7 linked regions of the Homo sapiens genome follow. The protein of the gene in region 3 purifies or fractionates together with the protein of the main gene of each other region. This does not show direct contact. Each region holds a gene or a part of one and is shown on either strand. Other genes may lie near its edges. The genes, in order: RPS6KA4, NUSAP1, DDX42, PIN4, ANOS1, PRP4K and FOXJ3.

Evidence for each region.
Region 1: the proteins of DDX42 (region 3) and RPS6KA4 fractionate together in Homo sapiens (co-fractionation; one large-scale study listed by BioGRID). This does not show direct contact.
Region 2: the proteins of DDX42 (region 3) and NUSAP1 purify together in Homo sapiens (affinity purification with mass spectrometry, with the first as the bait; one large-scale study listed by BioGRID). This does not show direct contact.
Region 4: the proteins of DDX42 (region 3) and PIN4 fractionate together in Homo sapiens (co-fractionation; one large-scale study listed by BioGRID). This does not show direct contact.
Region 5: the proteins of DDX42 (region 3) and ANOS1 fractionate together in Homo sapiens (co-fractionation; one large-scale study listed by BioGRID). This does not show direct contact.
Region 6: the proteins of DDX42 (region 3) and PRP4K purify together in Homo sapiens (affinity purification with mass spectrometry, with the first as the bait; one large-scale study listed by BioGRID). This does not show direct contact.
Region 7: the proteins of DDX42 (region 3) and FOXJ3 fractionate together in Homo sapiens (co-fractionation; one large-scale study listed by BioGRID). This does not show direct contact.

The regions. Positions count from the first base shown.
Region 1 is NC_000011.10:64,365,662-64,369,161, forward strand, and holds part of RPS6KA4 (ribosomal protein S6 kinase alpha-4), read left to right. Parts: intron 1-2,470; coding exon 2,471-2,599; intron 2,600-2,806; coding exon 2,807-2,940; exon of another isoform or gene 2,941-3,042; coding exon 3,043-3,136; intron 3,137-3,500. UniProt on the Homo sapiens protein: Serine/threonine-protein kinase that is required for the mitogen or stress-induced phosphorylation of the transcription factors CREB1 and ATF1 and for the regulation of the transcription factor RELA, and that contributes to gene activation by histone phosphorylation and functions in the regulation of inflammatory genes.
Region 2 is NC_000015.10:41,370,881-41,374,380, forward strand, and holds part of NUSAP1 (nucleolar and spindle-associated protein 1), read left to right. Parts: intron 1-646; coding exon 647-804; intron 805-3,500. UniProt on the Homo sapiens protein: Microtubule-associated protein with the capacity to bundle and stabilize microtubules. May associate with chromosomes and promote the organization of mitotic spindle microtubules around them.
Region 3 is NC_000017.11:63,772,783-63,776,969, reverse strand, and holds the start of DDX42 (ATP-dependent RNA helicase DDX42), read right to left. Parts: upstream 2,801-4,187; 5' UTR 2,594-2,800; intron 1,863-2,593; exon of another isoform or gene 1,792-1,862; intron 1-1,791. UniProt on the Homo sapiens protein: ATP-dependent RNA helicase that binds to partially double-stranded RNAs (dsRNAs) in order to unwind RNA secondary structures. Unwinding is promoted in the presence of single-strand binding proteins.
Region 4 is NC_000023.11:72,180,547-72,184,585, forward strand, and holds the start of PIN4 (peptidyl-prolyl cis-trans isomerase NIMA-interacting 4), read left to right. Parts: upstream 1-1,239; coding exon 1,240-1,282; intron 1,283-4,039.
Region 5 is NC_000023.11:8,725,638-8,729,137, forward strand, and holds part of ANOS1 (anosmin-1 isoform 1 precursor), read right to left. Parts: intron 1-3,500. UniProt on the Homo sapiens protein: Has a dual branch-promoting and guidance activity, which may play an important role in the patterning of mitral and tufted cell collaterals to the olfactory cortex. Chemoattractant for fetal olfactory epithelial cells.
Region 6 is NC_000006.12:4,027,800-4,031,299, reverse strand, and holds part of PRP4K (serine/threonine-protein kinase PRP4 homolog), read right to left. Parts: intron 1-3,500. UniProt on the Homo sapiens protein: Serine/threonine kinase involved in spliceosomal assembly as well as mitosis and signaling regulation. Connects chromatin mediated regulation of transcription and pre-mRNA splicing.
Region 7 is NC_000001.11:42,279,736-42,283,235, forward strand, and holds part of FOXJ3 (forkhead box protein J3), read right to left. Parts: intron 703-3,500; exon of another isoform or gene 619-702; coding exon of another isoform or gene 551-618; intron 1-550.

The sequences.
Region 1 (3,500 bases), on a different chromosome or scaffold from region 3:
TTCATGGTTTATCTTTAAACCTTCTGTTAATTTCCCTTCTATTCCATCATCTCTTTATTGTTATGTAAAAATATTGTTTGAAATTATTCACTTGCGGCTGGGTGTGGTGGCTCACACCTGTAATCCCAGCACTTTGGGAGGCTGAGGCAGGTGGATCACTTGAGGTCAGGAGTTCGAGACCAGCCTGGCCAACATGGGGAAACCCCGTCTCTACTAAAAATACAAAAATTAGCTGGATGTGGTGGTATGCGCCTGTAATCCCAGCTACTCGGGAGGCTGAGGTGAGAGAATCCCTTGAACCTGGGAGGCGGAGGTTGCGGTGAGCAGAGATCACACCATTGCATTCCAGGTTGGGCGACTGAGTGAAACTCCGTCTCAAAAAAAAAAAAAAAGAGATCTTCACTTTCTCACGTGGACACCTAGGAGGAGATGCATGTTGATATTGTGGCTTTGCATGCCCTTGGCATAGCATGGTACACTCCTGGAGGGTCAGGTCCCCTCCACCGAATTTTTTTTTTTTTTTTTTTTGAGACGGAGTCTCACTCTGTCTCCAGGCTGGAGTGCAGTGGCTAGATCTTGGCTCACTGAAATCTCTGCCTCACGGGTTCAAGCAATTCTCCTGCCTTAGCCTCCTGAGTAGTTGGGACTACAGGCGTGCGCCACCACACCCAGCTAATTTTTGTATTTTCAGTAGAGATGGGGTTTCACCATGTTGGCCTGGATGGTCTCAATCTCTTGACCTTGTGGTCCGCCCACCTCGGCCTCCCAAAGTGCTGGGATTAGAGGCATGAGCCACCATGCCAAGCCCCCTCTACTGAATTTTAGAAGCTTACACCTTTTGGACAAGTCCAAACTCCCTTTGCTTGGGCATTGAGGCCCTTCATGATGTGGTCCTTGCTTAGAACCTTAGCCTCAGTTCTCATCATTTTCCTACTTGATGCTCTGGAGGGCATGATCGAACTGCTCAGAGGTTCCAGAATATACCTCTGTGCCTTTGCACTTGCTGCTCCTGCTACCTGGAGTACATTCTCTACAGCAGTCTACATGGCAAGCTTCTACCCCTCTTTTAGGCCTCCTTGTCTGCTCACCTGGCCCAGGGGGTCACCCTTTCTTTGTGCTGCAGTCCTCTGTGGACAGCATCTCCTTCTGTGCAGTTTATCATGTTGCCATAATGATATTATATCATTATCACTAAATAAACCAGTATGGTTTGTTTAATAGACAGACCAAGTATGGCTGGATAAGTCCCTTCTCTGAAGCTCTTAGAATTGACAACTCTGTGCTTGAATGTCCACATTCCATTCCATTGTCTCACAGCCCTCATGATAAAGTTCTTTCTCTTGAATTGGTAGGTACTTTCATTCATTCATTTAATGATTCAAAAATGTGTAGTGAGTGCCTAAAATATTCCAGGTACGGATCTGGGTACTACATTTTTAGGAGAAGATGACACATAGTTTATTTTTAAAATTATTTTTTAAAATTAATTAATTAATGTTTTAGAGACAGGATCTTGTTCTGTGGCCCAGGCTGGAGTGCAGTTGGGCAACCATGGCTCACTGCAATCTTGAACTCCTGGGCTTGAGTGATCCTCCCACCTCAGCCTGCCCAATAGCTAGGACTACAGGCAAGTGCCACCACTCCCAGATAATTAATTTTTTTTTTTGAGACGCAGTTTCGCTCTTGTTGCCCAGGCTAGAGTGCAATGGCATGATATCGGCTCACCGCAACCTCTGCCTCCCGGGTTCAAGCGATTCTCGTGCCTCAGCCTCCCGAGTAGCTGGGATTACAGGCATGTGCCACCACGCCTGGCTAATTTTTGTATTATTAGTAGAGATGGGGTTTCTCCATGTTGGTCAGGCTGGTCTCAAACTCCTGACCTCAGGTGATCTACCTGCCTCAGCCTCCCAAAGTACTGGGATTACAGGCGCAAGCCACCGTGCCTGGCCACAACACGCAATTAAAATGACCCTTAAAAGCTCCTCAAATTGCCAGGACATGGATCTTTAGGAAAAGCAAAGAATTAACTCTGCCTTCTTTTTGCATTTCTTCAGTAGCTCCCCTTGCAGAAGAAGCCAAAGTCCGGCTTGAAAGGGAGGAATAAGTTTTTTTTCCTCAGCGGATAGAGTTGGATTCTCATAAGCTAAGCGTGAACTCAGGCCACACTTTCAATATATTCATTGGTCCTTTCAGTGCCTTCAGCCCTTGGCACCTGGGGAGGAATAAGTGGTCACTCTGATGAGAAAGTTGGGGTCACAGGCTGGTGGGGACAGACATGGCCCCAAGTGATTATAAAACCAGGTGGAATAAAAAGTGTCCACACATCCTGTGTGTACCAGAATGCAACTGGAACACCCCCCACTGCCCCCTTGTCCAGGGTCTTGCCTTTGCCTGGTTCCCCACCAGAGTCTCCTCACCCGCACCCCCAACCCCCATGCCCATGCCCATTCCCCGGACTCCCGCCCTGCAGGGATACTCCTTTGTGGCACCCTCCATTCTCTTTGACCACAACAACGCGGTGATGACCGATGGGCTGGAAGCGCCTGGTGCTGGAGACCGGCCAGGTCGGGCAGCGGTGGCCAGGAGCGCTATGATGCAGGTGGGCTGGGCTGGGCTGGGTTGGGGGGAAATTGGTTTTAGGAGAGGCCTAGGCCCGGGGACTCTAGGCCTAGATCCAACTGGCGCCCGCAGCGTGAGCTCAGCAAGGTCCTAAGCCTCTCCGACATGGGGCGTGGCGGGGCCGCGGGGCTACCAGGTGGGACCTCTGACGCGCCGCCTTCGCCTTCGCCTTCGCCTTCGCCTCCAGGACTCGCCCTTCTTCCAGCAGTACGAGCTGGACCTGCGGGAGCCTGCGCTGGGCCAGGGCAGCTTTTCTGTGTGTCGCCGCTGCCGCCAGCGCCAGAGCGGCCAGGAGTTCGCAGTCAAGATCCTCAGTCGCAGGTGGGAGGGCCCAGGCGCGGGCAGGGGTGGGGGTGGCAGAGCGCTGTCCCGGGGGCGGGGCCGAAGCGCGGCGACCGTAACTCCTTCTGCTCCGTCCCCCAGGCTGGAGGCGAACACGCAGCGCGAAGTGGCTGCCCTGCGCCTGTGCCAGTCACACCCCAACGTGGTGAATCTGCACGAGGTGCATCACGACCAGGTGATGGCTTCCGGCCAGGGGAGGGCGGAGAGAAAAGGGGCAGGCGGCGGGGCTTGGGGGCACTATGGGCGGGATCTAGGGGTGAATTGGGCGGGGCCTAGCGTTTGATTCGGGGCCCAAAGGGACCAGGGAGGCGCAGGGAGTGGAATTTGAGGGGAGTAGGGCCTGAGGACGGGAAGGCGGAGCTGAGGATGGACAAGAAAAGGGACTTTGGCCGGGCGCGATGGCTCACGCCTGTGATCCCAGCACTTTGGGAGGTCGAGGTGGGCGGATCACTTGAAGTCGGGAGTTCGAGACCAGCCTGGGAACATGGCGAAACCCCGTCTCTACGAAAAATACAAAAATTAGCCGGACGCGGTGGCGT
Region 2 (3,500 bases), on a different chromosome or scaffold from region 3:
CACTGCATGCCAGCCTGGGTAATAGAGCCAGAACCTGTCTCAAGAAAAAACACTACCAATTAACTATTGACATCTTATGAATTGTAAAAACACATCCCAATTTCAGAGATGTTAAAATGTAGAAAAAATACTATCAGTCAATCAATCAAATACATTTGTGGCAATTTGCCATATGTAAAGAATGGTAAAGAATGGGCTTATTTCTCTACCACACAAATGAATGACATTCTTTTAGGAACATACAAGACCTGTTCTCACCACTCACCTAGCATAGCAGTCTTCTGCTACCTGTGACTTCCCCTAACCTGGAGGAGGAGGAGGAGGAGGAGGAAGGGGAGCTTTTGGCTTGCCTCTTGGACTATAATGAGGCCTCCACACCTATTCCTCCATCACCATCATTGTCCAAGGCAGGGAGAGCAGAAAAGACAAGAACATATTTTACAAATAATGTTAGTTGATATGTGATTTAATTTAGCATTAGCCTTTTAGGAATATGTCTCTTCTGCAAAAGAGGTTCGTTCCTATGACAATTATTAATTGAGGCCCTTTTCACTGCTTGCTAATAGTCAAGTGGTTTTATTTATAAGCTAGACACAAGTTACTCTTGCCACAGTACTCATGTCTTGTACTCTGCTGTCCTATTTAGGTTTTCAGCTGCTACTAAAGATAATGAGCATAAGCGTTCACTGACCAAGACTCCAGCCAGAAAGTCTGCACATGTGACCGTGTCTGGGGGCACCCCAAAAGGCGAGGCTGTGCTTGGGACACACAAATTAAAGACCATCACGGGGAATTCTGCTGCTGGTAAAAAAAAAAAAAAACAAAAGAAATCTGTTTCATTTTTAAGCCATGTAACTTCCCAAAATGATTAGGTATATCTGTTTTTTTTGTTTGTTTGTTTTTTTCTGAGATGGAGTTTCGCTTTTGTCACCCAGGCTAGAGTGTAATGGCGGGATCTCGGCTCACTGCAACCTCTGCCTCCCAGGTTCAAGCAATTCTCCTGCCTCAGCCTCCTGAGTAGCTGGGACTACAGACACATGCCACCATGCCCGGCTAATTTTGTATTTTTAATAGAGACAGTTTCACCATGTTGGTCAGGCTGGTCTCAAACTCCTGACCTCAGGTGATCCGCCCGCCTCGGCCTACCAAAGTGCTGGGATTACAAGCGTGAGCCACTGCGCCCGGCCTGTATCTGTTTCCTTAAACCCTTTCCATTTCTATAATCAAAAGCAAAAATTTTACCATAGTGTATTTTTAATTGTGTACTAGTGGGGGAAATGCCAGAGACATAAGCAAAAACCAGATATCTGCCTGAGAGCTCCATCTAATCCTAAAATGGTGACCCTCCAGGAAGGGCACTGTGCCCCTTGTGGGACTCAGGGATTCGGAGGATGAGCACAGTATTCGTTGCAGCCTCGGAAAGGTCCTGGAGGACTCTGACACTAACAGGATCCCAGACCACAGACTTCATGTTTCAAGATTCAACCATGTTGACTCGTTTTCACAGTATTTTTCAGTGGTGTGGGTATATGTCAGTTTATCTATTTTACTATTCACGAACATGTGGGTGGTTCCAGCTTCCATTATTATATATGATGTTGCTATGAATACTCTTAAACATGTCTCCTGTACATGTGCAAGAGTTTCCCTAGACCTAGGAGCAGGACAGCTGGATTGGAAAATATGCAGACATTTACTGTCCTGAATGAATTGTACCAATCTGTGCTTCCAGTGGCAGTGTATGGCAGTCCCTTGTTCTACTCCCTGTCAGCATTTGATACTGATACAGTGGGATAGCTTGAACACAGGGTTTTGTGCTTTTTTTTAACTAAGTGGTCTTAGATCCTGATTGCTGTTTCACAGATGTAGGCAAGGGTTCACATTTGGCAATGACCTGTGGCTTCCCCCTATGAAAAGAAAGGATTGGCCGGACGCAGTGGCTCTTGCCTGTAATCCCAGCACTTAGGGAGGCCGAGGTGGGTGGATCACTTGAGGTCAGAATTTCAAGACCAGCCTGGCCAACATGGTGAAACCCCAACTCTACTAAAAATACAAAAATTAGCCGGGCATGGTGGCATGCACCTATCATCCCAACTACTCAAGAGGCTGAGGTAGGAGAATCGCTTGAACCAGGAAGCAGAGGTTGCAGTGAGCCGAGATTGTGCCACTGCACTCCAGCCAGCCTGGGCAACACAGTGAAACCCTGTCTCAAAAAAAAAAAGAGATTGGGAGAGAAAGGATTAACTGATGGCCAACTGTAGCAAAAAGGCTAACTAAACTACACCATCCTTAGGCTGGGCATGGTGGCATGGAGACCAACCTGGCCAACATGGCAAAACCTCGTCTCTACTAAAAATACGAAAATTAGCCGGGCGTGGTGGCACGCGCCTGTAATCCCAGCTACTCACTTGAGAATCACTTGAACCCAGGAGGCAGAGGTTGCACTGAGCTGAGATCACATCACTGTACTCCAGCCTGGGAGACAGAGCAAGACTCCGTCTCAAAAAAATTAAAAAAAACTACACCATCCTGGATATTTTTAACTTCGTGGTGCAAAAATTCATATTCTTTTTTTTTTTTTTTTTTTGAGACGGAGTCTCACTCTATCACCCAGGCTGGAGTGCAGTGGCACCATCTTGGCTCACTGCAACCTCCGCCTCCTGGGTTCACGCCATTCTCCTGCCTCAGCCTCCCGAGTAGCTGGGACTACAAGTGCCCGCCACCACGCCCGGCTAATTTTTGTATTTTTGGTAGAGACAGGGTGTCACCGTATTGGCCAGGTTGGTCTTGAACTCCTGACCTCGTGATCCGCTCACCTCGGCCTGCCAAAGTGCTGGGATTACAGGCATGAGCCACCGCGCCCAGCCAAAAATTAATATTCTGAAGTGATAAGAGCCCTTATTAATAATATTCCTGACTTTAAACAATCCTCCTGCCTCAGCCTCCCAAAGTGCTGAGATTACAGGTGTGAGCCATATCTGTTATCAGGGAAATAAGCTGAAAAGTTACCGTCATTTCCTTCAACAGAATTCTAAACTCCCAGCTGATCCTAGGATCCCAGCACTTTGGGAGGCCAAGGCAGGTGGATCATGAGTTCAGGAGATTGAGACCATCCTGGCTAACACACTGAAACCCCGTCTCTACTAAAAATACAAAAACAAAATATTCAGAACATTTACAAAGCTGCTTAGCAAAGGAAATTAATCTCAATGGTTAGCTTTCCTCAATTATTGTTTTCCCCTTTTCTCCATTTTAACCCTTATTTCAGACTTTCATCTATTTCAGACTATTCATGTAGATTGTCTTAGTCCTTTGCGGCTGCTATTATATAACAAAGCACCAAAGACTGTATCTTATAAACAGCGGTAATTTCTTTCTCATAGTTCTGGAGGCTGGATGAGGGCAGATCAGGGCACTAGCATGATTCTGGTGAGGGCTGTTTTCCAGGTAGCAGACTACCAACTTCTTGTTGTATGCTCATGTGGCAGAAAGAGAGCTAG
Region 3 (4,187 bases):
ACCACTGCACTCCAACCTGGGCAACACAGCAAGACAGTCTCTAAAAAATAAATAAAACACGGTGGTTTCCTAGGAAATCTTAACAGAATAGTAAAGTAGCACAGGCTATGTGTAAACTATCTTTGCTACTAACTTGATATGAACCTCAGGGAAGTTATTTAGCTTCTCTGGGTTCAGTTTCCTCATCTATAAAAAATGGTAAGAGGCTGTGTGTGGTGGCTCACGCCTGTAATCCCAGCACTCTGGGAGGCTGAGGCAGGCGGATTACTTGAGCTCAGGAGTTCAAGACCAGCCTGGGCAACACAGCCAGACACCATCTCAAAAAAAAAAAAAAAAGATGAGACTATCACCTATCTCAAGAGTTGGCGTGAAAAATTAAGTTCATACACAAAAATGTACTTGTTCAATATGTCAGCTACCATCGTGTTTTTCATTATTACATTATTTCTGAAGAACCAATTTCTTCATCGGTAAATTGAGACTATCAGACTTCTTTCAACTCAGGTATTTCATACATAAGCGCCACAAGAACACTGAAGATGTCAGAGATCACCATGAGCTAACAAGCAAGGGCAAGTGTCATAACAGAGTCAGAAGCCAGGCTAGGCACAGAAAGATGAAAGCTGGGTAGAGACGTGCAGACGAAGACATTCCAGGGAGAAAGACTGAACTAGCAAAGGCTAGGAAGTGAGAATAAATGTGGAACACACTTATAAAGGAAGACAATTTAGCTAGTTTGTGTTTTCGGCAATGGCGGAAAATAAGATATGATCTAAATGACTTTAAATATAGTGGACTAAAAACAACTGATTATATAAGCCACATTACTTTATCACTTGTATTTTTGGAGGTGGAAGGAAGAGTTCTAGTGACAGTGATTAGCATCTACTCTACATATACTTTGAGAGTACCTCACACACTATATACAGGTCAGTTCTTTGATGAGAATCTAAATAAAAACTCAAGAACGTAATCACATTCTTCTAAACCAAATACAAGTAAATGCTAGGTTATGGTTATTTTAGAAGCATCCCTTCTCCTGTCAGCTTAAAGCAACTAAGAGCTGATTATATGACTATCAATGTAACAAAACAAATTTAAATAACTGCACTCCTCTCTTATATTAAATTGTTACAATATAAATCAGATATTATCATTCCTCTGATCGAAACCCTCAGATCCTTCCTAAGTAACAGCCTAAAAGGCTTTGGTTGTTCCGCTCACTCCCTTCCCCCAATTCTTCCCTGACCTTATCTCCTAATACTCCCTCAGCTCACAGTGCTCCAAACGCGTTGGTCTTCACACTCTTAACGGGCCAGCTTTGTCCTCCTCAAGGCTTTTATGTTTGTTATTCTCTAGCTTGGAACGTTCCTTTCCCCAGATAAACGTAGGCTCTCACTCCACCTTCTAGTCCGCTTAAATATCAGCTTGTCTGTATGGACTTCCCTGACCACTTTATTGCAAATTCCAACACCACCACCTCCCCAACCCCCTTTCCAGCTTTCTTTTCCCTAAGATACTGATCATCTTCTAACATTCAGTATAATATATGTATCTGTTTGCCTCTCCTCCCGCTACTAGAAAGTTAAGTTCCCCAAAGGCAGGGGTCTAACACCTATCCCTATCACCTAGAACGGCGCTAGAGAATAGGCACCAATAAAAATACCCCTTGAATGAACGAATTGCACATTAGGCTACACAATGCTTCTTCCAGGTACAGGAAGATATATTTTCTTTTCCCAGCTGTCAAAATATAAACATTAATTTTTGTACGAAACACTCATTGCTCACCTCTTATGTGCCAGAAATGAGCTTGGCTCTGCAAAGCGCCTTAAGACATAGTCCCTGCGCTTGAGGAAGTCCTGGGTGTGTATACGAGAGAGGACAGACATAGAAACATCATTGACAAAAAGAAAACACAGGGAAGCCACAAGAAATTGGATAACTGCCTATAGGAGTGGGGGCAAGAGGGAAATTCTCAGTGATGAGAATGTAATTCCCCAAAACTCTCGACAGCTTCTCCTGTTTTTGATGCATATGTTTGCAATTCCATGTAAATTATTTATTCACATCAGATACGCTCTCAAGTAGGCCGCAAAAAAGTTTGTGTGACTACAGTGATGCTAATAATCGACCTACTCAACGCTGCACAAAGATCATCGCCTATATCTTTTCACTCCTCTCATTTGGCAGCTTTTGCCTCTCAGGACCCCAAATTCGGAGGCCTGCATCTCCCAAGCGCTGCCTCCTTGGGTCAGAATTCTCCCCGCGCTATTCCTGCCCTGGAGCCGGGCACCCTGCAAATCCTTTTCCTAGGCGAGGGGGCGCCGCCTCCGGAAAGCCGCCAACTGGGCCTCGGTAAGACTTGTGAGGGAAGCGGGAGCTGTGGGAGGGCGACGCGGCTAGGAAGGAACCCTAGAGGCCTCAGCCCCCACTCCCACCCCTTCCCGGCACCCCGGCCGCCGGTGCCCCGAGGCTCTGCCGACTCTTTGTTAAGCGAGGCCGCGGTTCCTCCGCCCTCGCTAGGCCCAGCAGTTGCCTCCAGTGCCCCCAAGGACTGGCGGCCTTGCGTCCAGAAACCCCACGCACAAACCTGCTGCTATGGCTGCAGCGGCAGCTGCTACAACCGCGGGCGCGGAGCGAATCCCGGAGCCCAAAGTACGCGCTGTCCCGGCCCGGTCCCGCCGCGCTCCTTCCTCTCCGCCCCCTTCGCCGCCGCCGCCGCCACCACCACCACCGCCGCCGCCACCGCCACCACCGCCACCGCCTCACGGCCCGTTGCTGAAGGGGGGAGGGGAACAAAAACGCGACATGCGCAGTGAGGAACGCGCGGGCAGAAGGGCGGGGCCGGGGCTACGGCTCCCGGAAGGCGCCTGACCTTAAAGCTCCAGAACGCCTCACAGGCTCCTCAGATACTCTGACGGGAAACTGCAGTTGGGTGGACAGTGTTCATGACCCATCTAGAAAGTGGGTCTGCGAATGAAGAAAAAGTGGCGTCAAGGGGCTAGCCAAAAATCCCAAGAGAAAACGGGTTGGACAGAAACCATATTTACATGAACATGCCTATAGTTTAAACTGTTGCATATACTACTAGAGCGACACTCTTGCCTCTGGCCACGTGGTCCCACACAGCATGGCCACCTTTAGCTTCCGGAGCACCGGTTCCGTGTGACGTCAACTTGACGGAATCCTAGGTAGGAGGATTGGGATAGGCGAGGGCAGTTCCGGCCCAGGGGCGGGGATTATGTAATTTTCCCAAAAGCCCCACCTCGCCTCAGCCGGGCGGGAGAGAGGGAGGTCTCGCGCTTTCCCCGGGGTTGCGTCCCGCCCCGCAGGCTGCGCGCAGGCGCTGACGAGCCGCTCGCATTCTACGTAACGGACGGCGGAGGCTACGTGAAGAGAGGCGCGGCGTGACTGAGCTACGGTTCTGGCTGCGTCCTAGAGGCATCCGGGGCAGTAAAACCGCTGCGATCGCGGAGGCGGCGGCCAGGCCGAGAGGCAGGCCGGGCAGGGGTGTCGGACGCAGGGCGCTGGGCCGGGTTTCGGCTTCGGCCACAGGTAAGGAGCGGGCCAGGACGCGCTCGTCGGCGTGGCCGGGCCAGGCCGAGCGGTGACTCCGAGTTGCTTGGCCTGTAGCCCGGTCCGGTTGAGATAATTGTAATGGTTTGGGGGAACTTTCCCACGGAGCTGTGAGCAAATGATAGCCAAAAGGGCAGAGTTAGAGGAAATGTACAGTGTGTGCCGGAGGATGACATTAGGATGTATTGATTCTCTTGGGTGGGGAGAAACTAGGCAAAGGGGTTTAATAGAAGCAAAAACCTCTGTGGCCAGTCTCTTCTGGAGGTTTCTAAAATGAAACGTGTTTGTATCCAACACATATAAAGAGACAGAGGAAAGTCTGCATGATTTCCAGAATACTCGTTTTGGCCGTTGTCAGGAAGACCTAATCTAAAATGACAACAAGGAATGATGGCCTCACTCAGTCCTCTTTCCTCAAGTCTAGACTCAGTCGCTGAGGAACTATTGGATGAGCTTGCAGAAAATAATCAAACCAGACTTGTTAGCGCTTGTGTGAATTTTCCTTGGTCCTGTGTTGCTTGCTTCAGGAGTCATAGAGGCTGGGTGGTCTGGCAAGGACTTGTGCATTTGAGAACTGACAGGTGCAGCGGAGACTTCTAAGAGGGAAA
Region 4 (4,039 bases), on a different chromosome or scaffold from region 3:
TGTGGGCACAAATTCAAAAATCATTTATCTTAGGCAAACATTATTAATATGAGCAAGCCATCATTTTATGTGCTTTACAGATATGAACTTGTTTAATTCTCTTAACACCTGATAGGATAATAGTAGGTACTATTATCATCAACTCCATTTCACAGATGATGAAACTGAGCCAAAGAGAGGTGAAGTAACTTCCTCAAGGTCATGGAGCTAGTAGACAGATGTGGAGCAGGGATTTGAAACTGGGCAATCTGGCTCCAGAATCCATGCTTTTACTACACTATGCTGCACCATTATGGAAATTTTGGAAAATACACAGAAACAAACACGATGACCTGTATGCACTAGCACCACTGGCCACATCTTGCTCTATAGCTTTCCTCTCCTTTATATTCATATAACATACAATACATTACATATACTTCTTTTACAAGGAATCATATTCTTTATCTTGGTCTTAAAAACATTTCCCCTATCTGTACACACAGCCTTACAATCGTTATTTTGAATGTTGTATAATATCTTCTTGTGTGGCTAAAACATTATTTAAGCAGTACCCGACTGAGGAGCACTCAGACTGCTTCCAATGTTTCTCCATGACTGAGCTCTGCAAGACGCAAAAAGGTGACAGGCTTTTTTAAAAACTACCTTTTGAACCTAATTAGCTACAACTGCAGAATAAAATTAACAAACGAAAAACTGCCAGGGAGGGCAGCCCTGTGTGTAGGAGGAGACAGCGGAAGTTGGCCGCCACCACAGTACTCCTGCTTCCCTTTGTCTGGCGGCCCCGCGGGATTGGCCAGAGCTGGCGCCGAGGGACTGCAGAGCCACCCACCCCCGTGGCTCCTACTGCGCACGCGTGAAAAAAGCCAGGTTGAGGGGAACGGGGGAGCTTCGGGCGTAGAGTGTGGGGAGTGGGGGATCTGGTGCAAATTAGGGTGCGTGAAAGAAGTCACAAAAAGCGCAGAGGCCAGGCTTCCCGCCCTAATCCGGCCTTTGTCTCCGCCCCTCTGCCTTTGTTTCGGCCCAAGCGTCTTATTGGTCAGACATCTTCAGCCCCATTGGTCCAAGAGCCAAAGGACGGGGTCTGCCCCAAGCTGTGCCTGCTTCCGGAGCCGCAATAAGAACGGTCAATTGAGATGCGGCTTTCAGGCATTTGTTTAGGACATGCCCATGGCGGGGCTTCTAAAGGGGCTTGTACGGCAACTGGAGCGGTTCAGCGTTCAACAACAAGCTTCCAAGATGCCGCCCAAAGGAAAAAGTGGTTCTGGAAAAGCGGGGAAAGGTAGAGCGGCCAGAGCGATCAAGGAGAATGGGGGCGGGTGAGGAGCGAAGGGAGGGAACAGACAGTCCATCTCCGGAGTCCGGGACGGACGCAGCAGGTAGCCAGTGGCCCCACAGTGCTGCCATCGATTACATCTGTAGGAATACATTGGGCTACGGTTCAGGGACCGTCCTAGTGGGTAATGGAATCTGATGGGGATAGTTCCTCGGAGGCGATGACTTAGGGCTGCTATTTCAAGGGGTTATTAGAGCTCTAAAATTGGGTCTTATCAAAAGCCAGCAATAGGAAGTACACATTGGTTATGGTCCTTAAAGTTCACTTTAATGCTTACAGAATGACATGCCCACCATCGGGGAAGGAATCATTCATCCATTGAACAGAAATGTGTCAGGCAGAGTGCTAAGCGCTGAGGATACACAAATAAGACAGAAGGCTGGGCGCGGTGGCTCACGCCTATAATCCCAGCACTTTGGGAGGCCGAGGGAGGATGGATCACGAGGTCAGGAGTTCGAGACCAGCTTGGCCAACATGGCGAAACCCCGTCTCTACTAAAAATACAAAAATTCGCCAGGCGTGGTGGTGGTGCGCGCCCGTAATCCCAGCTACTCGGGAGGCTGAGGCAGGAGAATCGCTTGAACTCGGGAGGCAGAGGTTGCAATGAACCGAGATCGCGCCACTGCACTCCAGCCTGGGCGACAGAGCGAGCCTCTGTCTCAAAAAAAAAAAAGAGATTTTGGCCTTAAGGAGCTCCCGAAGTAGTGAGGAAGATAAAGGCTTAGTGATCATAAAGCACTGTACTAAATGTAGTGTTGAGGGATGTGTATGGGATATAATAGAAATTGAGGGAAGTCCTTCATTTAGCTGGGGAACAGGGAACGGAAGACTTCCTGGAGATGAATTAGGCAGGTCAAGATGTGCATTGAGGGTAGGTTAAAGCATTCCTTACTTGGGGTCCAGCAGCAAAAGCACTGAGGTGAGAAACAGCATGATGTGTGCAGCGTAGTGTTGCTGGAGCAAAAACTCAAGGCAGAATGGCAAGTGGTGAGAATGAAAACAGAAACAAAGACGAGATCATGGAGAGTGCTATATATTCTGCTAAGAAGGACAGTTAAGGATCAGAAAGACCTGTAAGGAGATTGTTGTGGTAGTCTTGGTGAGAGATGATGGTGGACTGACCTAAGGGAGTGGCTGTGGGAACTGAGAAAAGAGAAAAGATTCTGTAAATATTAGGATGTGAAATAGTCAAGACTTGGTGATTTATTGGGTTGGGGAGGGGTGGTGAGGGAGGATCAACGATCATTCTGTTTTCTGGATTGGATTTCTAACCTGTTGCTGGTCCTGCAGGGTAACATCAAGGATACATGAGGAGCGGGGATGAGATTGATGAATTCACTTTCAGATAGATTGGCTTTGAGGTGTCTGTGGGACATCTCAGTGGAGATGTAGTCAGGAAGTGGTTGGATATTTGAGTCTAAAGTTTGAGGGAGAGGTCTAGACTGTACATGTAAGTTTTAGGAGTCGCTAACTTATAGATGGTAGTTGAGCCCATTAGAGTGTATGCAATTATCCATGGAGAGTTTATAGAATGAAAAGAGCAGAGAGCAGAGGATGTGATCCTAGGACAGGCAGAGAAAGAGGCAGACAGATAGAGGGAGTGCAGAATGGTGGCCAGAGGCTGGAGAGACCAGAATGTTTTAAAGAGAGAGGGTATAGTCTATCAAGAACAGCAGATTTGGAAATTAGAGGTGGCCTTGGGTAAAAGTGGTTTCAGTGAAACAGAAGCCAGATTACCGTGACTAGAGAACTGACTGGGAAGTGGTAATTTGGACTTCTTGGAAAGTTTTAATTGAAAAGCATGGAAATGGGATGGTAGATAGAGAAGGACAGAGGATTAAGAGAAAGTTTTATTTTCTTTGCTTCTTTGGAATGGGGAAAACTTGGGAGTGAAGCTGAAGGATCCAGTAAAGTAAAAGAGGTAAAGGTACAGAAGAGTGAGATTTAGGAGAAAATGGAATCCAGGACCTAGGGGGAGCAGGGACACCTTATGCTTGAGGTCATAGGAAAGGAGATGGAGGGGCAGGGACTCAGTAGGCATCTTGAGGAGAGTGGTAAAGGTCTGGAATATCGTAATGGAAGAGGGAATGAAACACAAAAGAAGTGCCTTCAGGGCTAGGAGCCTGACTAAGATCAAAGGCCATGAATTTGTAGACTACATAATCTTCACAGTCTGATTTACCTAGTACTATGCAATTGGCACAATATAGGATTGAAAAGAGCTAGGTGCAGCCTTAAGCCATGGTTGAGGTTTTGTTAGGCAGTTATGATAGGAGGATAGCAACACCAGGGAATTACAAGGGCCAGTGGGAATGCAGTTCAGATGAAGGAACATGGGGTCCAGAGTGGGAAGGGAAAAAGAAGTCTGGTGGCCTAGGTGAATGTAGCAGGACGAAGGGACTGGGGTCAAGGGAGAGGTTCTGTGAAGTTAAAGAGCAAGTATTGTGGGAATGAGACATGAGGAAGCTGGAAGAACAGGAGGTTATAGCCAGAGACTGAACTAGTTCTGAGTGGCACAGTTCCATCGTGTGCCCCCGGGGCAGGTAGCTTGGAGTAGAGAGCATGACATTCGGGAAAGAGACCTAGAACTGAGATTCCCCAAGATAGATGGTGAGGTCACTCAAGGTAATGGCAGGAGTGAGGGTGGAGAGGAAGCCCAAAGCTGATGCCAGAGTCGTCAGGAAATCAAAGGCAGTGAGGTGG
Region 5 (3,500 bases), on a different chromosome or scaffold from region 3:
AGATATATATACAGATATATATATATACAGATATATATATACAGATATATATATATACAGATATATATATACAGATATATATATATACAGATATATATATACAGATATATATATATACAGATATATATATTTGATATACTGCATAAAGAAATAAACAAGTTAGTAAGTGTATTTTCTATTGTTTTTTAAATGTTCTATTACAGTCACAATAAGGTAGAGTTTTAAATCATGTTCAAAGAGAAATACCATATTAAAAACACAAAAAATTGCAATGAATAGTATAAGGTTTCTTTTGGGTCAAATTCAGAACGTGTTAGAAACGCAGCCAGAGAGCCAATAACTCAGACCAGGAAACACCAAGACCAAACTGCATCGAGTCGTGGTTCTCCCAGCGGCTCTCTAAATGCCTGGCCATCCTGCAATATAACTGAAAACTCAGCACAGAGCAAAGGGACACATCGTAGGCTGGGTATGAGCACCACAAAATCCATTCCTCTGAAATCTGTGAGCCTGGGGCTGATTTGTAGCTGCTGGGGTTTTGATGCGCTAATTGTTTGTTTACTTTGCCTTGGAGGAGAGGCTGGCCCTCTAAGTGGAATGATCTCATCACCAGCTTCATTCTCCTTTTTGCCAAAACAAACAGCTTCCAATTACTGCTAGGAAGAGCCTCTGATCTCTAATCAGCTACCAAAGGGAGCCTATCGGTGGTACTTTATAGGGCGAATAACGTCCCATTAAGGAAGAATCTCTTAACATCAGTACAATTCTGGAACCCTAGGGCCAAGCTGCCAGCAACCTGCTATTAGTCTTCCAGCAGGATCCCATCCACTTTCTCCCTGGGCATTCTGAAATCTGGCAAAGACACAGACACACATACACACACATCCCGCCTCACTTGCCCACGGACTACTACTTTTCCTCAAACCCTACTGTTTTGAGCCTCCATTGAGAAAACACAGGCAGACAAAGAGCAGGTCCCAGGCCTGCCAATGCTGAGATTGCCAATGGCAGGTCCCAAGCCTGCCCATGCTTAGGGAACTGATTATGTTTAGAGCTTAAGACTCAGCTACACCTGTGCCATCATGGGCAGACCCAGAGGAGGTCAGAGGAGCAGGAGTGTCCAAGATGAAGCATAGGGCATGAAGTCACTCTCAAATGCATCAAGAGTCACCTATAAAGAGACAGGGCTTATCTCAGGCACCACCTCCCTCCTTTCCTTCTTCTTTAATCTTCTAGAGAAGTTGAGAACATAAGAGGAGAGATGTTTCTCCCTAAGTGAGCATATGTCAGCATCGTACCCTTTAACATTACAGGTGACCCTATGAGGAACCGCCACTCCAAAGTAGGTTTAAACTTTCCCAGATGGCTGAATCTTTGACATACAAACAAAGCAAATTAGGTCAGTTTCACAGACGTATGAACAGTGCAGTCCACTATATGCTCACAAGAGGACCTAGGCTTGGGGTATGCTCTGCAATGGCCATGCTGAAATTCTTTGAGTTTGAGTTTTGTATGTAAGAGTCAATAGCACACTGCAGTACTCACTGGAGAGTGGACATGTCAGCTCAGAACCAATCCTGACTCCCACCGCACCCTCACCTCTCCAGGACAGGTTCTCACCGCCCATTCCCCCATCACCTGGCACCTCAGGCCCCACTGGCCTTCTGCTCCCCACCTCCCATCACATGATCCCTGCCCACTATGGTCCCTGCAGGGACCGGGCATGGGTGTAGGGAAGATCAGGGTTGGCCATATGCATGTCATACAGTGTCCCATGGTATGGTTGTGTCTGTCCCCATTCCATGCTAGTAGCATGATGGTGTGTTTGGTGGGTGGCCAGCACGATTCTGAGACACTGGAATGGCACATCCACTGAGGAGGATGCAATAAACCTGGGAGCTGCCCATCTGCTGGGGGCAGGAGCAGCTGGCCTATGAAGGGGAGGCACCTGGCTCAATTTCCAGAGGACCTGTGCCAGGCAAGAGTACAATCCCCGGGTGCAGCAGCAGGCAAAAGAGGGGACCTGGCCAGCATCATGCCTGAGCACATGTGTCTGAGCCCAAGGCCCTAGGTGCCTGTGAGACATGAGTGTTCCCTGGGCACACCCCAAAGCCTTGGGGGAGCCTTCTCTTCCTCCTTCCACCATTCCCGAGTCTGGCCTGTTGGACCCTCTGGCCATTTCAGGGCTCCCTCCAGGAATTAAGTGCTCTGATATTTACATGTAAAGCTGGCATTGCACAATATAAAGAAGAAGAGTTAGCGTCATGCTAAAATTAAACTTTAAAATTTTCTTCACTGAGAACAACATGGATAGGAAATTTAAAACACCATGACAAGTTAACAGAAGCAAGTGGCAGAAGAAAGGAAAACGTTTTATATCTTATTTCCTTTAACAAACACTTTTTTTCTTGCTAAGAGGCCCCACGTTTTTATTTTGCACCAGGGCCTGAAAATTAGGTAGTCAGTCCTGAAGTAAATTATCCAGCTAACCAACAAAATCTTAAAAATAGAAACAAAACCAAAAGCTAGAAGCCATCCTCACTATTAACCCGGCTAAATCGTCAATGAACTGTGTGATGAGCCAACTTTTCAAGACCTCTGAGTTCTTCCCTAATTTAGTAGCTGCCTCCTAGGAGTGTTGTGGGGATTAAAAGAGTAGTACTTGTAAAATACCCAGAAGAGTGGCTGCTCCTTAGTAATCTTCCGGGTAGTGCTAGCTGCTGTATTACCATCACCTGCATCACCCCAACATGTTTTGCATCCTGATTGCATCTTGCAGGGCAGGTGCTTCTCTCCCCCACTGGGCATATGAAGGGTTAACATTCAGGAAGGTGATGTGATGCACCCAAGCTACCCATTCGCGACGCTACAGAGCCTGGGTGTAGAGCAGGTCTGCACAGCCCCAAAGCCCACTTCCCTGTTCCATACCTCACAGACCCACAGCTCCTCTTCACTCTGCTAACCGCACATATGTATTCTACTTGTGAGCCTGAAATAGCTCCATGCCAAATGACCTGGACAAAGCATCCTGGAGCCAGATACTAATATTTCAGGAGGTGCTAACATGCACTGTTTCTTTTCGTGAATGAAGGGCAGCATTCAGTAGTGAAATGATGGGGTTTCCATCCCATCTTCCTTTCTTCCTTTCCAGGTCAGAGCAGTGTTGGATTACTCAGGTATCCCTGGTCTGCATTCCCACCCCCATGCCTCAGTACTGAGTCCCTTGTGTTTTTGGGCGTGGTTGACAGCCACTTTGTGCAGGTGGGGCAGAAACAGCCTGCAGACCTGGAGGTGTCAGGTGTGCACATCTACCCACTGCTTTTCTGTCTTGTTGCTGAAGGGCTGGGCAGTGGAGGACAGTGGGGACAACTGGGGCACAGACTATGAGACGACAGCTTCCTCTGCAGGCCGACGACAGCAGGTCACTGCCCCAGGGAATCTGTGTCACTGCCTACACCATGAGTGCATAGGTTGCGCTCTCCTGAGGCAAGGCCTGACAG
Region 6 (3,500 bases), on a different chromosome or scaffold from region 3:
CTTAAAAAGTACAGGTTAGAGAAAAAGGGAAAAGCAAACCAGGCACAGCAAAACCTCATTAACATTGATTTAGTACAAGAAGCCACTCAGTAACTTAATTTTTAAACCAACATTTCTCACACATTAACAACCAAAGGGCCCGTTTTCTTTTTTAATAAGACCTACTAACTATTAACATACACTGGAAGACTAATCTCCTTCTCCACTTGAAATTCATGAAACTTGGTGTCTCTACAGTAAACCCAGCAGGTCACTTGTTTTGAGCAGATTTCATCTTATACCTTAAAAACAAAGCAAAACAAAACAAAACTCTAGAGCCAATACTGAGCTATACCCAAAATAAGCACTCAATCAATGTGCATTGGTAGCTGATACTGATGATGGTGATAGTATAAACACATCCTCACAAGTTGAATCTTCAAAGTGAACTAAACCGGAAGTTAGGACTCTAGGCTTGTAGTAAGCAATCATACGACATTAGGCTGAACCACATGGAAGGGCCTTTTGTAAGTCAACAAGTCTAATATCAGTAATTTAATACAGTACAGCCCAATATTCATTCAGCAAGTGATTTAATCTCTCTGAATTTCAAATGAGAACTCAGTTTCCCAAAATACATTTACATTAACAGATGCTATGGAAATAAATAAATAAAGTGGGGGATTCTGTGCTTAAATGTTTGGCTTATGCTGAGTTAAAAAGTTTATGATTCTAAATTACGTTGTCGAGCCCTTGGTGTTTAAGAATCCCAAGTTAAATACTGGTTCAAAAGCACTATTTAACTTTCTCTTTAAAAGTTACTCCATAATAAACCATCATCCTAGAATATCAGACCAAAAGTGGCCTTAAATTATCTAGATTCAGGCCATCATACTATTTTTGGAGGAAGCTATGGATTATTTTGTCAGGTCTTCATATTATATACTCCTATACTTTTAGTAAGTTTATCCTTGCAACCTAAGAATTCATCTGTCTACTCACAATCTCTTTAACATTTAAAAAAAACTCACCAACCATGGGTAAGCATTAAGCCACGCGGCAGGAAAACAGATGTACAAGCCAGGCATGGTGGCTCACGTCTGTAATCCCAGCACTTTGGGAGGCCAAGGTGGGCAGATCACCTGAGGTCAGGAGTTCAAGACCAGCCTGACTAACATGGGGAAACCCCCTCTCTACTAAAAATACAAAAATTAGCCAGATGTAGCGGCACATGCCTATAATCCCAGTTACTCGGGAGGCTGAGGCAGGAGAATCTCTTGAACCTGGGAGGCGGAGGCTGCAGTGAGCCAAGATTGCGCCATTGCACTCCAGCCTGGGTGACACAGTGTGACGCAGTCTCAAAACCAAAAAAAAAAAAAAAAGAAAGAAAACAGATTACAAAACCAGTATCTGCCTCCTTCAAAGAAATTAATGTCTGGTGGAAAACTAAGTCACATGACATAACCATAAAATACTGGAGAAGTGCAATGATGAAGACACAAATAGGGGCATTATGGGAACACTGAAGGATCACCTAAACTAATTTCGAGAACGGTCAGGGACACTGTTTTGTAGATCACAGAAAGAAACCAATTTGTTAAGCAGGGATGTTAGGAGGAAAGAAGAAACGTTTACTGAGAAAGGACAGGGATTAAAAAATAAAGGTTGGCCCAGGCACAATGGCTCACATCTGTAATCCCAGCACCATGGAAGGCCAAGGCAGGAGGATCACTTGAACCCAGGAGTTCGAGACAAGCCTGGGCAACAGAGTGAGACCTCATCTTTATTAAAAATAAAAAAATTAGCTAGGTGAGACCTCATCTTTACTAAAAATAAAAAAAATTAGCTATTCAGGAGGCTGAGGTGGAAGGATTACTTGAGCCTGGGAGGTCAAGGCTGCAATGAGCCATGATGGGGCCACTGCACTCCAGCCTGGGTGACAGAGCAAGACCCTGTCTTTAAAAAAAAAAAAAAAAAAAAATTGAGTAACACCGCCCTAGAGAATGAGTAAGGAATTAACAAGAAGGGAAAAAGGGGCATTTCAAATAGAGAAAGAAGGTGACAAAAGGCAGTTATATATAGCAAACTTCAAGTCGATCAGTGTTGTGAAAGACACTGAGGTAAAGATTCCAAGTGGAGCCAGGCATGGTGGTGCACACCTGTAGTCCCAGCTACTCAGGAGGCTGAGGTGGAAGATCACTTGAGCCCAGGAGTTTGCAGCTGCAATGACCTATGATCACACCACTGCACTCCAGCCTGGGCAACAGAGAGAATCCTCCATCTCATTAAAAAAAAAAAAAAAAAAAAAGATTCCAAGTAGACCAATTCCAGGAGATAACAAGATAATATATGGTTCTAGGAGTGGGTAGTTGAGAGAGAATTAAAGGTTCACTGGAGTCACAGAGGCCCAGGAACTGCAAAAGTACGTTGTCTAGCCAGGTCTCATAGTCTTGAATAAACTTGCTGGGAGAAGGGGTGGGGGAGAGAGAATGGCGGTATGACTGAGAAGTTACTAATTAGTTGACAACAATGAGGGGGAGTGAAAAACACATAGCCACTACAGGGTACCATACTCAAAGAACTTTGATTTTTGGATGTCACATTGCCAACTTCCATTTCTGGCAGGAAAAGGTATTTAAGAGATGTGCAGAAGAAGCTACGTCCTCTGGTGAAAGTCAGGTTTTAATTTGGGTTGACTTCTCCCTAATGGAGTATGAGAAGACACATGACAAATACAGTAGTGTTCTCTGGATCATTAATTTTTCTCAAAGACTTGGAAAAAGTGCAGTATCTTGGTATTATAAAAACACCACCAGGCCATGTGCAGTGGTTCACACTTGTAAGCCCACACTTTGGGAGGCTGAAGTGGGAGGATTCCTTGAGCCCAGGAGTTCAAGGCCAGCCTGGGGACCATGGTGAGATCCTATCTCTACAAAAAAATTTAAATTAACTGGGTATGGCAGCATGTGCTTGTAGTCCCAGTTACTCAAAAGGCTGAGGTAGGATCACTTGAACCCAGGAGGGGATCACTTGAGCCCAGGAGTTAAAGGCTGCAGTGAGTCATGATCATGCACTGCACTCCAGCCTGGGCAACAAAGGAAGACCCTATCTCAAACACACACAAAAAACAAAACACCATCATTGTTTTATTATGGAAGGGAAAGAAGTCACATAGATTTCAGTAAAAAGATTCCAAGACATTTCAACTTTGTTCTTTATATAGGCTATATTCTCATCCTTTGTCCCCAGAAATCTCCCATCCCATAATCCAGAAGGTCTTTTTTTTCCTGAACCTTGACTTATAGGGGGAAAAGTCTGAGAAAAATTTAGGCTAATTCAAGTTATGAAGGTAGGAGAGTCTTTAAAGATTGAGAATGATCTTTAGGCGTATAAAATCTAAGTGCCCAAAGTACAAAATTCTAGTCACTAAGCTCAAATTCAAAATTACCTAAAGTTTTGAGTTTTAACTCAAGACTGTCCTCAAGACAAAGGACAGCTGAGTGGTTAAGCAGTCTCTGGAG
Region 7 (3,500 bases), on a different chromosome or scaffold from region 3:
ACTGACAATAAAGTAGAGAAGAATGAAAAGACTTCTAAGTGATATCAAAATAAAGGAAAAAAGGACAACAAAATAAAAAAAAACTTAAAGGTTTCTTTTGACTTAAAAGTCAAAAGAAAACATTTGTAGCTATGAAAATCCCATATAGCCCCTTCATTCCAAATGGCTCCTGACAAAAAGCAACCTTGAATATTATGTATAGGATCTGAACAACTTGGCGGCAACAGAGAATAATAAAGAACAGGGAGTTTGGGGTAAGGAAGACCCAGAGTCTAAGTACTGATTCTAACAGTTATAAGCTGTAGAACTGTGAAGATGTTAATTACCTCTACCTCCCAGTTTCCTCATCTGTAAAATGCAACAATAGTACTTATGGTCAAAATATTACTTTGAAAATTAAATGTATTAAAACATGCACAAAAAAATATTCAGTAAGTGCTAGTTAATAATATTAGTCTAGGAGTATCTTGGGAGGGCACCAATGCACTATAAAGTAAACCACATTAAGCAAAAGCAATTATAAATCAGAAGACAACCACGAGGATTCTACCTGCACTGCCAGTAAATTGAGTCCTCTTGATTTTCAGGTATGTTGATCCATAATTTTACCTTACTCATTTTCTCAAATTCCCTCCATCTCTATTGTACACATTCCTCTGAACCTGAACTTTAAATTCATCCATATAGCATCTTCAGAGATCTTAAAAAAAAAAAAAAAAAAAAAAAAAAAACTTACTATCCTACTCTACAATCTCAACCAGAAATGCCTGTTCCCAGCAAGAAGTTATAGGGACTTGTAGAATAAGAAGATAGGATAATTTAGAGATCACACAATGTCAAAACAGTAGAGAAAGTACCCTAGAGATCAGAGATGAATCCCTTCAGTAATGAAAAACTGCAGTTAAAGCTCATCCAATTTCACACAGGTAGTTAGCAGTAGTACAAAAACCAGAGCCCAGATCTCCTGATACCCAATCTGGTAGTTTTGCTAAACATACCTCATCTGTAAGATGAAAAAATTTAAATAGTTCCCACCTCACTGATGTAAAGTATTCAGAACAGTGCCAGGCAAGTAATAAGTATTCAACAAATGTTAACTACTCGTATTGGTAATAAGAGTAGTTGCTTATATTATTATTCACATTTCATTCAATAAAGATTGGCTATTTTATACCATGCTGTCATCCAATTTACCTCAATCAAGTCTCCATGGAGTAGAGCTTTATTTTGTTCAAATTCCCAAAGCAGCCAGTTACATGCATTTTCATACAAAAGCATATTACAAATTGGAATATAATTGTTATTGCAGGTGCTCCCTACTGAGAACCATCTTTGCCTTCTGCTCCCTTCCACCAGTGCCAGTAATGAGACTTTATAAGAATCTCAGTAATACAGGTATTTACTATGTGTTATATATTTAACAAGGATGCATAAATTATACATGTGTAAAGAGCTATGTTACAGTAAAAAATAAAATAAAATAAAAATACACACATACCTGTCCTCCAGGAACTTATAATCCAATAAAGAAGTTCAGACACAACAAAGAACTGAATAAAAGTACACAGCTGAGCTGTGGGTGCTATGAAGGTTCAGGAAAAGGAATAAACAACATGGACTAAAGCCTTGAGGGTAAAGAAGGAAGAACTTAGCAAGTCTTCAGCTAAGTGAAGATTGACTTAGCTGAAGAACTTCAGCTAAGTGAAGATTTAAATAGACTGGAAAGAAAAAGGACCCTAGTCTTCAAAGCCATCATGTGTAAAAATTATTCCACTGTGCTTATATTCATCAGTTCCACAAGAGCAAATTTTAAGTACACTATAAAAACATCTCAAATTTAAACTCTAAAAAAGTGGGGCTTCTGTTCTGTTTGCAATTTCTTAAATTTTATATACAGCATTCTTGGTAGTGAAGCAAAAAGTGTCCCCACTGTTGATACTTAGGCTGGTGGCTACTGTGGTTCTCCATCAAGCGTGGAGAGCACAAAAGATGACCATTAGGTTTGGCCAGATCACCAGTAACTTTAGACACAAACTCATTAGGGCGGGTGCGGTGGCTCATGCCTGTAATCCCAACACTTTGGGAGGCCGAGGCAGGCGGATCACCTGAGGTCTGGAGTTTGAGACCAGTCTGACCAACATGGTGAAACCCCGTCTCTACTAAAAATACAAAAATTAGCTGGATGTGGTGGCACATCCCTGTAATCCCAGCTACTTGGGAGGCTGAGGCAGGAGAATCACTTGAACCCAGGAGATGAAGGTTGCAGTGAGCCGAGGTTGCACCACTGCAATCCAGCCTGGGCAACAGAGCGAGACTCAGTCTCAAAAAAGGAGAAAAAAAAAAAAAAGAAACAAACAAACTTATTAGTGGAATGGTGATGACAGAAGTCCACTTGTATACGAGAACAGATGGTGGTAAATTTAAAAACAGCATGGGAGGCTGGGAGAAATCTGGTTATGGAAATCTGGTTAAGAAATGTCAGGCCCTCATTACCTCACCTCATTCCAAAAGCTTCCTAGCTGGCTTCCTGGACTCTGATGTCTCAACCACTCCTCCCTACTAATCATATCCAGTCCATGCATACACTCCAAGAGAAACCTATCAACACTGCTTTCATGTCATTATGCCTAAACACTTTCAATGGCTCCCTAACTCCTACTATACTACATCTAAATTCCTCATTTTCAACTACTTTAGCTTTTACTAATCTTTTATTAATCCTTCTCTAAATTCCTAGAGCAATTACAACCTCAGTTTGGCAACTGACATGTTGTTTCACATGCATAGTTGAATCATATGCTTAAGCTTTCTACCCTCACCTCCTCTCCCCCAACCACTGAGGACAGTGACCATACATTAGTACTTCTGATGCTATCCAATACCGTGCCAGGTACAAATTATCTGAAAAATAACATAGTAACTGGATAAGGAATAAGGGCCTTCTGTTCTGGAATGTCCTTTCCTTCTCTGTCTGCCTGGCTGGCTTCTACTTCAAGACCAAACATCTCCCGCTACAGAAAGCCTGGTCAATCCCCTCTTTCCATCCTCCATCTCCTAAGCTAAAGGAGCTATTATTCCTAAAGCAGAGTATAAATACACCTATCACAGAATTTATATGTAACTGTGATTATCTTTATCTACCTCTCCCCCAGGAGATTCTGATCTCCTTGAAAGAAGAAACTTTCATGACTGAAATAGTAACTATCCAATGAAGGTATGCGTGTGCTCCTCCCCAAACAAGTGAGACTGTAACAAGTTCAAAAGTTAAAGAGGTGAGAGTACTAAGTAGCAGAAAGTAAGGGTACTCATAGGTTTGAAGTCTTTCGTAAGACAGAAAAAAGTATGACTCAGAGCACAGACTGACAGGCAGCTTTATACAGGAAAAGAAACCATTCTACCAGAATAACAAAGAAAAATGAGAATATGGGAGTAAGATGAAAAGCATATACTGTTACCTGTGGGAGAAAGCAAAGCACAGAGAAGAATTTGTCTGCAGTTCT